Linked DNA regions of Homo sapiens: region 2 is linked to region 1. A link means that fine-mapping ties the variant in region 1 to the expression of a gene that starts in the linked region. Tissue or cell type: whole blood. Region 1 holds a variant in brackets; the other region holds the start of a gene. All regions are shown on one strand. Distances are from middle to middle.

Region 1 (5,000 bases):
AGACTTTGGTTTTATTTGTGTATAATTCATATTCATCAGTGGTGTAATGAATCACAAAAGTAGCATTGTGAATATACATCCTGTCTTTGATAGGAAAAAGCGAAAGCACTAGGTAATTTCATCCTAATTAACCCAGGCTTAGGTCAACTGCTGCTATGTATCTGGAGAGCAGGAAAAGGGCAGAGTGAAATGATCTCTACAAAGCAGGACAAATCTAATACTGTCAGGATGGGTCACTAGACTCGTGTTCCTGGAGTTACAGGTGGAAAGTAGTAGCTTCTTTTTATAGACCACTAAATGCCTACTTACTAAAATCTGCCAGGAAAGGAAAAATCTTGTCTGACAAATTATTTTAAAATGTGGATTGATCCTGGAGAAGACAGAAAGCCACACTAAAAGTATAATTTGTCAGTATCATCTAGCACAGCAGTTTTCAAACTATGATCTCAGGACTCCTTTACAATCTTAAAAAATTTTCAAGGATCCCAAAGAGTTTTTGTTTATGTGGATAGTACCTATCAATGTCTACTGTTTTAGAAAAAAAATGGGGAAAATGTACATGTTTTCTACATGTATTTATACATGTATAAAATGTCTACACGCACACACACACACACACACACACATATATATATATATATATATTTTTTTTTTTTTTTTTTTTTTTTGAGATGGAGTCTCGCTCCGTCACCCCAACTGGAGTGCAGTAGCGCAATCTTGGCTCACTGCAACCTTCGCTTCCCGGGTTCAAGCAATTCTCCTGCCTTAGCCACCTGAGTAGTTGGGAATACAGGTGTGCACGACCATGCCCGGCTAATTTTTTGTTGTTGTATTTTTAGTAGAAGATGGCATTTCGCCATGTTGGCCAGGCTGGTTTCAAACTCCTGACCTCAAGTGATCAGCCTGCCTCAACCTCCCAAAGTGCCGGTATTACAAGTCTGAGTCACCACGCCCGGCCTATTTATTTATTTATTATTGAGACAGAGTCTGCTTTGTCGCCCAGACTGGAGTGCAGTGGTGAGATCTCAGCTCACTGCAACCTCTGTCTCCCGAGTTCAAGAGATCCTCTCACCTCAGCCTCCTGAGCAGCTGGGACTACAGGTATGTGCCGCCATGCCTGGCTAATTTTTGTATTTTTTGGTAGAGATGGGGTTTCACCATGTTGGCCAGCCTGGTCTTGAACTCCTGAGCTCAAGCAGTCTGCCCACCTCAGACTCCCGAAGTGCTGGGATTACAGGCATGAGCCACCGCATACAGCCTATTTATTTTTGAGACAGGATCTGGCTCTATCACACAGGCTGAAGTGCAGTGGCGCAATCACAGCCCACTGCAGCCTCGACCTCCCAGGCTCAAGTGATCCTCCCACCTCAACCTCCCAAGTTGCTGGGACCACAGGCATGAGCTACCACACCTGTCTAACTTTTGTGTTTTGGGGAGAGACAGGGTTTCACCACGTTTCCCAGGCTGGTCTCAAACTCCTGGGCTCAAGTGATCCACCTGTCTCAGTCTCCCAAAGTGCTAGGATAACAGGCATTAGCCACCGTGCCCAGCCCATATTTATTCATTTAAAAATAGCAATGGCCTGGGAAACATGGTGAAACCCTGTCTCTACAAAAAAAAAAATTTTTTAATTAGCTGGGCATGGCCAACACCTGTAGTCCCAGCTACTTGAGAGGCTGAGGTGGGAGGATCACTTGAGCTTAGGAAGTCAAGGCTGCAGTGAGCAGTGATCACACCACTGCACTCCAGCCTGGGTGGCAGAGTGAGACCCTGTCTCAATATAAATAAATAACAATGAACTCATTACGTTTTATGAAAAATAACTATTTTCCAAAACAAAAAACTGTGAGAAGAGTAGCATTTTAACATTTTTGAAAATATCTGGCAGCTGTAGTCTCATGTCAGCGTCTGCATTCAGTCTGTTGTTATATGTCATGTAACTTATGGAAAGTTCCACTGTACTCTCATGAGAGAGAATAGATTTTTATGAAATTATAGAATTATTCTGAAGATAGTTTTGACCTTGTAGACCTACTGAAAGGGTCTCTGGATCCCCCAGGGGTCTCTAAACCACACTTTGAGAAATGCTGATGTAGCAGAAATGATGAATGCCAGGCTCTGGAAATTGACCACCCTAGGTACCTATTTTTTTTTTTTTTTTTTTTGGAGATGGAGTCTCGCTCTGTTACCCAGGCCAGAGAGAGTGCAATGGCGTGATCTCAGCTCATTGTAATTTCCGCCTCCTGGGTAAAAGCAATTCTCCTGCTTCAGCCTCCTGAGTAGCTGGGGTTACAGGCACACACCACCACGCCTGTCTAACTTTTTGTATTTTTAGTAGAGATGGGGTTTCACCATGTTGGATAGGCTGGTCTCGAACTCCTGACCTCGTGATCCGCCCGCCTCAGCCTCCCAAAGTGCTGGGATTACAGGCATGAGCCACCGCGCCTGGCCTAGATACCTGTTTTATAAGTTATACCAAATACCAACCTTTTGTATGATGTAGAATTAATACTTTCTCAAAAGCTATAATTTCAAATAATTTCACTTTCTTCAGTAAGGTAATTCATTAACTGTGTATAACTAAATCTATATATTTAATTTTTATCACAAATTAGAAAAGATTATTTTCCAATCACATCTGGAAAATATAATAAAGCTTCATTCTGTAGCACAAAATAAACAATCAACAAGTATTTGTCAAATGTTCTTTTTTTTTTTTTTTTTTTGAGACGGAGTCTCACTTTGTCGCCCAGGCTGGAGTGCAGTGGCGCGATCTCGGCTCACTGCAAGCTCCGCCTCCCGGGTTCATGCCATTCTCCCGCCTCAGTCTCCCGAGTAGCTGGGATTACAGGCGCCCGCCACCACGCCCGGCTAATTTTTTGTATTTTTAGTAGAGACGGGGTTTCACCGTGGTCTCGATCTCCTGACCTCGTGATCCGCCCACCTCGGCCTCCCAAAGTGCTGGGATTACAAGCGTGAGCCACTGCGCCCGG[C/T]TGTCAAATGTTCTTACGCTCCATATAGCTGGAACTGACTGGATATGAGTAGCTTTATGCTTTTCACCGAACTCTGAACTAACGAGGGCAGGATGTGAGCTAATGACAATTCTAGATTGTTAAGTCCACTCCATGATCCAGATAATAGTAATTTTAAAATTGGCTTCACCGAGGTGAGCAGAATATAGACCTGTTATATCAAAGAGTATTTCTTGCTTCTCACTTTCTGCTGGAGGTACCAGAGAGTACCCAGACTGAAATATGTTTCTAGTGAAATAATAATAGCTACTCTTTAATGAATGTTTGCTAAGTGTCAGGTATTGGTGTAGGCATACATTGTTTCATTTTATCTTTAAAATAACCCTGTGAGGTAGATATTATCTCCATTCTATGGGTATGTAACAGTCACAAGGTCTTTCAGCTGGTAAAATCTGTCTAACTGCAGATCTGAGTTTTAATCAGCTGACTGCCTCTGGATTAAAGAAGCCTGGGTTAGGGGTAAGAGTAGGAATTGGAAAGGCTGTTTTCTGCCTTTGGATTTTCATGCAATTATGTCGATAGGAGAAAGGAGGAGACAGGGTTTTTAGATGATTTTTATCTCTGATATGGCATCAACTCAACAACAAAGAATGACGGCCTCATTTACTCTTCTGAATGCTGATTAATTTTGGGTCAGAATTGACCTCCAATACAACAAGAGTGGGTTTCACTAAAACATGTTGCTTGTCAGTTACTGAGCAACTGCTGAGCATAGTACCTTGGTAAATATAAAAGCAGTCTATTTGTGTTTACAAGGAGTTTAAACATGAGTTGGGGGTTAAATATTATTGGTATACAGAATAGTATACCAGTAAATGTAAATTAAGGTATCCACTGGCATTGGCCTTTGAATGGAACTATTTTTTTTTTCCCCCCCACCGGTGTAAAAGAGAATGTGTTACAGATGTGGCTAAATTTATGCTCTGAATAAATATTACTCTATGGCTCAGGAACTTTGGTGATAAGGTAAAAAGTTTTCATAGAGGGAGATAAAGTTTCTTATTCTCAATCCCTCCTTTAGAGATAATATATTCTAGGTTCAAATGCAGCTCAAGAAAATAGGTTAACGGCACTCCATTTTACACCTCCCAGTCATATTTTCATTATGGGACTCCTTAAGATGCTAAGGGCTAAAACTGGTTTTGACTTATCCTGAAAGTGGCAATATAGAGTTTTCCTAGTGCTGATGTTCTTAAAAATCTCTGATTACGGGGGAGAGTGAGATCTTTCTTGAAGAACCAAGGAATAGTTCCTCAATTTTCAAAGATTCAAAAGTTGGAAATTAATTATAATCAATCAATGATAACATCATAGAATCTTAGATATACAAAAAAATCTTAGAAATCATCTCATATAACCTCTTTTTATTTTTTATTCTTCTTCTTTTTTTTTTTTTTTTTTTTGAGACGGATTCTCACACTGTCGCCTGGGCTGGAGTGCAGTGGCACAATCTCGGCTCACTGCAACCTCCGCCTCCAGGGTTCAAGCAATTCTCCTGCCTCAGCCTCCCAAGTAGCTGGGATTACAGGCGCCCACCACCACGCCCAGATAATTTTTTTTTGTATTTTTAGTAGAGACGGGGTTTCACTATGTTGACCAGGCTGGTCTCCAACTCCTGACCTTGTGATCCTCCTGCCTCAGCCTCCCAAAGTGCTGGGATTACAGGCGTGAGCCACCACGCCCGGCTTTTTTATTCTTTTTAAAAATTTAAATCCTTGGGACTCTGCTTGATATAACCTCTTCTTTTAGATGATGAAACCAAGACCCAAGAGGTAAGTGATTTTACCAAGTTTATATGCCTTATTAGTAGATCTGAGACTACGATAGAGTGCTAATAGGTGATTTCCTTCTCACCTTTCCTAGCTTCCTGATTTCTTTCTTCTCGACTCCTGAAAGATCTAAGTATTTCCATAATCTCTTGGTTAGGCAGGAAGGTATCCAAGATCCAGGATATCTATATGCAGGAAG
Region 2 (5,000 bases), 35 kb after region 1:
AGGAGGCTGAGGCAGGAGAATCGCTTGAATCCAGGAGGCGGAGGTTGTGGTGAGCTGAGATCGCGCCACTGCACTCCAGCCTGGGCAACGAGTGAAACTCCACCCCTCAAAAAAAAAAAAATTCCAGAAACACCTGTTTTTTTTTTTTTTTTTTTCATTTAACTACATCCCCCTTCCTGGTTGAAAACCACTGCTGAATCAAGTCACTGCCACTGATGGAGGTGTACTGTATCTTTCCAGTGTGTTAGGCTAGAATAAAAATTGAGAACCATAGCTGGGTGTGGTGACATGCACCTGCAGTCCCAGCTACTAGGGAGGTTTGGGTGGGAGGCTTGCCTGAGCCAACGAGTTTGGGGCTGCAGTGAGCTGTGATCACGGCCCTGCACTTGCAGAGCAAGACTGTGTCTCTAAAAATAATAATAATAATGATAATAAAGAAAAAAAAAAGGCTGGGCGTGAGCCACCTGTAATCTCAGTACTTTGGGAGGCAGAAGTGGGCTGATAACCTGAGGTCAGGAGTTCGAGACCATCTTGGCCAATATGATAAAACCCTGTCTTGACTAAAAATACAAAAATTAGCCAGGCATGGTGGCACATGCCTGTAATCCCAGCTACTCAGGAGGCTGAGACAGGAGAATCATTTGAACCCGGGAGGCGGAGGTTGCAGTGAGCCGAGATCGCGCCACTGTACTCCAGCCTGGGCGACAGGGCGAGACTCCGTCTCAAAAAAATAAATAAAATAACAAACAAATAAATAAATAAATAAAATAACGGCCGGGTACAGTGGCTCACGCCTGTAATCCCAGCACTTTGGGAGGCCGAGGCGGGTGGATCACGAGGTCAGGATATCGAGACCATCCTGGCTAACACAGTGAAACCCCATCTCTACTAAAAACACAAAAAATTAGCCGGGCGTGGTGGCGGGCACCTGTAGTCCCAGCTACTCTGGAGGCTGAGGCAGGAGAATGGCATGAACCCGGAAGGCGGAGCTTGTAGTGAGCCGAGATCCCGCCACGGGACCCCAGCCTGGGCGACAGAGCAAGACTCCGTCTCAAAAAAAAAAAAAAAAAATTGCGTAAACGTATGGGTAGAAGTGCGATTTTGTTACATGCATACACTGCATAGTGGTCAACTCAGGGCTTTTAAGGTATCCATCATCTTTTATCTACTTTTTGTTTGGCACTTAGAGAGTAGTACATCGGCCGGGTACGGTGGCTCACGCCGGTAATCCCAACACTTTGGGAGGCCGAGGCGGGAGGATGGCTTGAGCTCAGGAGTTGGAGACCAGGTTGGGCAACATAGGGAGACCTTTTCTCTATTTAAAAACAACAACAACAACAACAAAAAAAAAACCTTTTTTTAAAAATTACCCGGGCGTGGTGGCGCACACCTGCAGCCTGAGCGACAAAGCAAGACCCTGTCTCAAAATAACATAACATAACATAACATAACATAACATAACATAACGTACATCATGCTACGGAGGCCGCTAAAAAGAACATGGCTTCTGTCATACAGGAGCTTATGGTCTCATGGAGAGGCACTGTGAGAGTTCAGAGACAACAGCTCAAAGACAGGGTGGGGGCTTGAGAAAACTTAGCAGAAAGGTGTAGGGGTGGGAATCGGGGTGGGAGTGGAACTGTCTTTTTAGAAGGATGGCCTGGAGAAGAGGAGCAGTGAGAGCATTCCAGGAAGTGAAAGCGGTCAAGAGGTGGAGCTGGATAGCCGATATGCACGAAGGGTGCCCCGGAGAGCCACTTATCAGGACGCAGAGGTCTATAGAGCAAGGAAGAGGCAGAGTTGGAGCGTGGAGGGTCGAGACGCCAGGCAGGAGTCGAGGTTTGACAGGATTAGCGCTGAGCTCTAGCAAGACTGACCTACTGCTGCGAGGAGCTTGGGCTTGGGCAGGAAGCAGTGCAGCTCGCGGTCCGCAACGCAACAGAAGCGGGTGAATTCAAGGGCACCAGGCCTGCAGACTAGGGGATGGGAGGACGCGGCAAGCGGAGACTGGCCCAGGTGGGCGCGCAGGCAGTGGGACTGGCAGCCCCTGCTCGGCCCTAGCCGGCAGCGTACCTGGATGCTGCAGCTCCTTCGCATCCAACCGAGGCCTCCTCAGGCAGGCAGGGTCTCGAGGCCACTGTCTACGCAACTTCCCAGCACAGCCGAACGCAGCACTCGGAACCAGACACGTGAGGGTAGCGTCCCTGGACAACCCTGAACGCCTCAGCTATTGGTGCAGAAAGCAACTTTCTCCCTCCCACCTGCCGGGTTAGCCTCTAGGATTCGGCTTGCCGCGCTATAAAGGGAACTGCGCATCAGACGCGGCACAACTCCGCCCACTAAGGCGGGAGTCCGCGCAGGCCGTCACTCTGGCTGGAGGCCGGCTTTGAACTTCCGGCTTCCGGGCCCGTTATCCTTACTACGCATCCTCAGACGCGCCGTGCTCTCGGAGAGGCCCGCTGAATTCTGGGGGCTGTGGTTTCTCTCCCTCGAGGGAGGGTCTTTGGCGAGCCAAGCTCTGGAACCGGAAGTTTTAGGATGCTAAATCAGAGTCAGCCAATCCTCAGCCTACGGTGCGGTGACGTCGCCAGTAGCTGGGTAGATTTTCGCAGCCGGCCTTCTGGAGGTGGATCGCGCGCCCCCTAGAGCCCGGCTGTGGGCCTAGTCCAGGTAGGGGCCCGAGGGGCACCGCGATGCCTGGACCGCTAAGGATGCGGCAGCTTGGCCCGTGACCAAGGAATGGGCACAAGGGATGAGAGTCTAACGTTTCCGTCCCGTGTGTGATCTCTATTCTTGCAGGAGGCATGATAAAGCCCCTAAGAAGGGCCGGCAAGGCCGGGGCCAGCTTGCGGCGAGGGCGGGAGGGGGCGCTGGCGGGAGGGGAGAGAGAGGGATGGGGACTGAGTGGGCACCGCCGCTGACCCCTGGAGTAGCTGCGATTATGGAGGAGGGATTTCTTTTTTCATTTTTCCTACGGTAAGAGGGAAAACATACGTGCAATGATACGCGCCAGCACACGCACTGCCACATGCACTGAAGCTCCCTCTCCCAACTCTTCTTGTTTCTGGAAAAAACACGCTTTATTGGGTAGACAAATAGGCCTGATGGGAAGGCCTGAGTCACAGTGCACTGGGGAGTGAACAAAAGTAGGCAAAGTGCTTGAAGCTTCCCCTTTGCCCCCACCTTAACCTCCTGGGGAGGCAGCTCTGGACACTCAGTACCCAGACCTGGGCTCAGCAAGGCCTGGGGTGACTGTGCCCCTCACTCCTGCTGCCTGATCTGGGCAGCCCCACCCTTCACTGGTAAGACAGAATTCTCAAGGGATAGGCGCAGAGAGGAGCCCGCCTCCCTGGTTCATTGGAGAGTAACAGGGTTTTAGCATAATGCTGGCCAGAGCCAGTGTGCCAGGTGCTGCCACACAGGAAGCTGACAGCCCTGCTGGACGGGCGGGAGCCTCTCGGGCCCTCCGGACTATTTATAGCTGGAGGCCTAGGCTGCTGACCTGTGACATTCCTCTGCTGCCACCCCATCCTGGAGCAAGGCAAGTGCAGAGCACACTCCTCCTCCTCCCCTCCTGTTCTTTCCTCACCCCAGGGAGTAGGGTGGTTTTGATTTTCTTCCTCCTCCTTGAGTTTCCCAGCTCTCGAGTTGCTGGTGTTGTCAGTACCTCACGAGAAGGCCCTCATTCAGCAAAGAGAGCTGCCCTTGGAATATTGGTGCCCACCAACATAGGAATCTGCTCACCCTTCCCTACCGTTCATCAGCCTTTGGGCCACCCTCTGGCCTGCTGGCTTCCAGATGCCAGGCATGGTTAGCTGGTTACCCTGGCCGGTCTGGAGCAGCTGAGGAAGAGGTGCAGAGTTTGGGAGGAAGAAAGGGGTGGAGTCAGGGATGTCCTCTGGGGAGATAGCACAGGAGGGGCCCAGCTGACACCTCCCCCAGCTAGAGCTACTGAGAAGGAAGCCTGGGTGAATACAAAGGTCACAGGGAGCTGAGTGATCTGAGCCTGTTATGAAAGGTGTAGCTCTGTCAGCAGATTAAGTTCCTGCTCCCCAAAGAGGGTGCTGGCGGGGAGGGTGAGGGAAGGCTTGGAAAGGTCGCACAGAGTGGGGAGGAGCTGGCAAAGAACTAGGAACCGGGAAGTCCCTGGGGAGAATGTCAAGCCACCGAGCTACAGATGCCAGCATGGCAGCAATTTGGGTGCCAGGGCAGCCTGGGGGAGGGGGAAGGGGGAGAACCAGAGGTTTCTGAGGACACAGATGTTGCTAGGAGAAGCTAAAAGGGGTTTGTTTGAGATCTTTGTATTTTGTTAACAAACACTGAGATCCATCGAAGCTGTGTGGGTCCTGGCAGAGGTCAGCAAAGGGGTCCTTGGGGCCTGCATCAGCTCAGAAGCCCAGACCCCTCCCTGACAATCCTTGCCTCATCGCTCCTGTGGCTAAGATACTTCTTCAGCCCTTTAACAGGATTACTGGTGTATGTGAGACAGCCACTAGCAGCCCCTGCCCTACCGGCCTCTCCCCCAACCCTTCTCCACATACATCACCCCCGCCACCAAGCAGGCAGCACTGGGGCTTGATTCCACCCCTCCCAGAGGATATGGAGAAAGCCCCACATCTGGAGAGGGACAGGGCAACTGCATTTCTGGCAAATGTGGTGGCATGAGGCTGCCAGTGGCTTGACAGTTCAGGATCTCCAGGTGCGTAGCTGGGCCCCATAGCCTCCTGTCCTCCAGTGAAAAGATGAGAAGACTCTGCTCCCTGGGAGTCCTGGAGATCCTGGTGACTAGGTACCCCAGGCTTCTGCTGGTCTCCACTGGGGTAAAAAAGCGGCCTGGCCTGGGCCCTGGCCCCACTCACATATGTTCTGGATGATTCTGCAGGCAGTGGATGAATTCACCCACTGGCTGGCCCTCGTAGCACACCTTGTACACAGCCATGAACAAGGGAAACCTAGATTGGAGAGGGAAAGGCTCAGCTTAGCCTCCCACTCCTGGTCCA

What was found. PIP is the estimated chance that this variant, and not a neighbour inherited with it, causes the effect.
Region 2: it holds the start of COX14, and the variant in region 1 is fine-mapped to the expression of COX14 in whole blood (TOPMed, PIP 0.93).

The regions. Positions count from the first base shown.
Region 1 is chr12:50,144,573-50,149,572 of GRCh38, reverse strand. The region is part of intron 1 of CERS5 (ceramide synthase 5); the gene reads left to right. The region is part of intron 1 of LOC124902931 (a long non-coding RNA gene); the gene reads right to left. Among named protein-coding and RNA genes, the nearest start is that of CERS5, 20 kb to the left of the region's middle. The variant C/T (reference allele first, on the strand shown) is at 2,994.
Region 2 is chr12:50,109,375-50,114,374 of GRCh38, reverse strand. COX14 (cytochrome c oxidase assembly factor COX14) reads right to left here and starts at 2,139. Exons shown (of 2, transcript NM_032901.4): 1 at 2,074-2,139. GPD1 (glycerol-3-phosphate dehydrogenase 1) reads right to left here. Exons shown (of 8, transcript NM_005276.4): 8 at 3,062-4,952. The coding sequence ends at 4,856. RefSeq lists enhancers at 1,810-1,859, 1,870-2,109, 2,330-2,589, 2,650-2,699.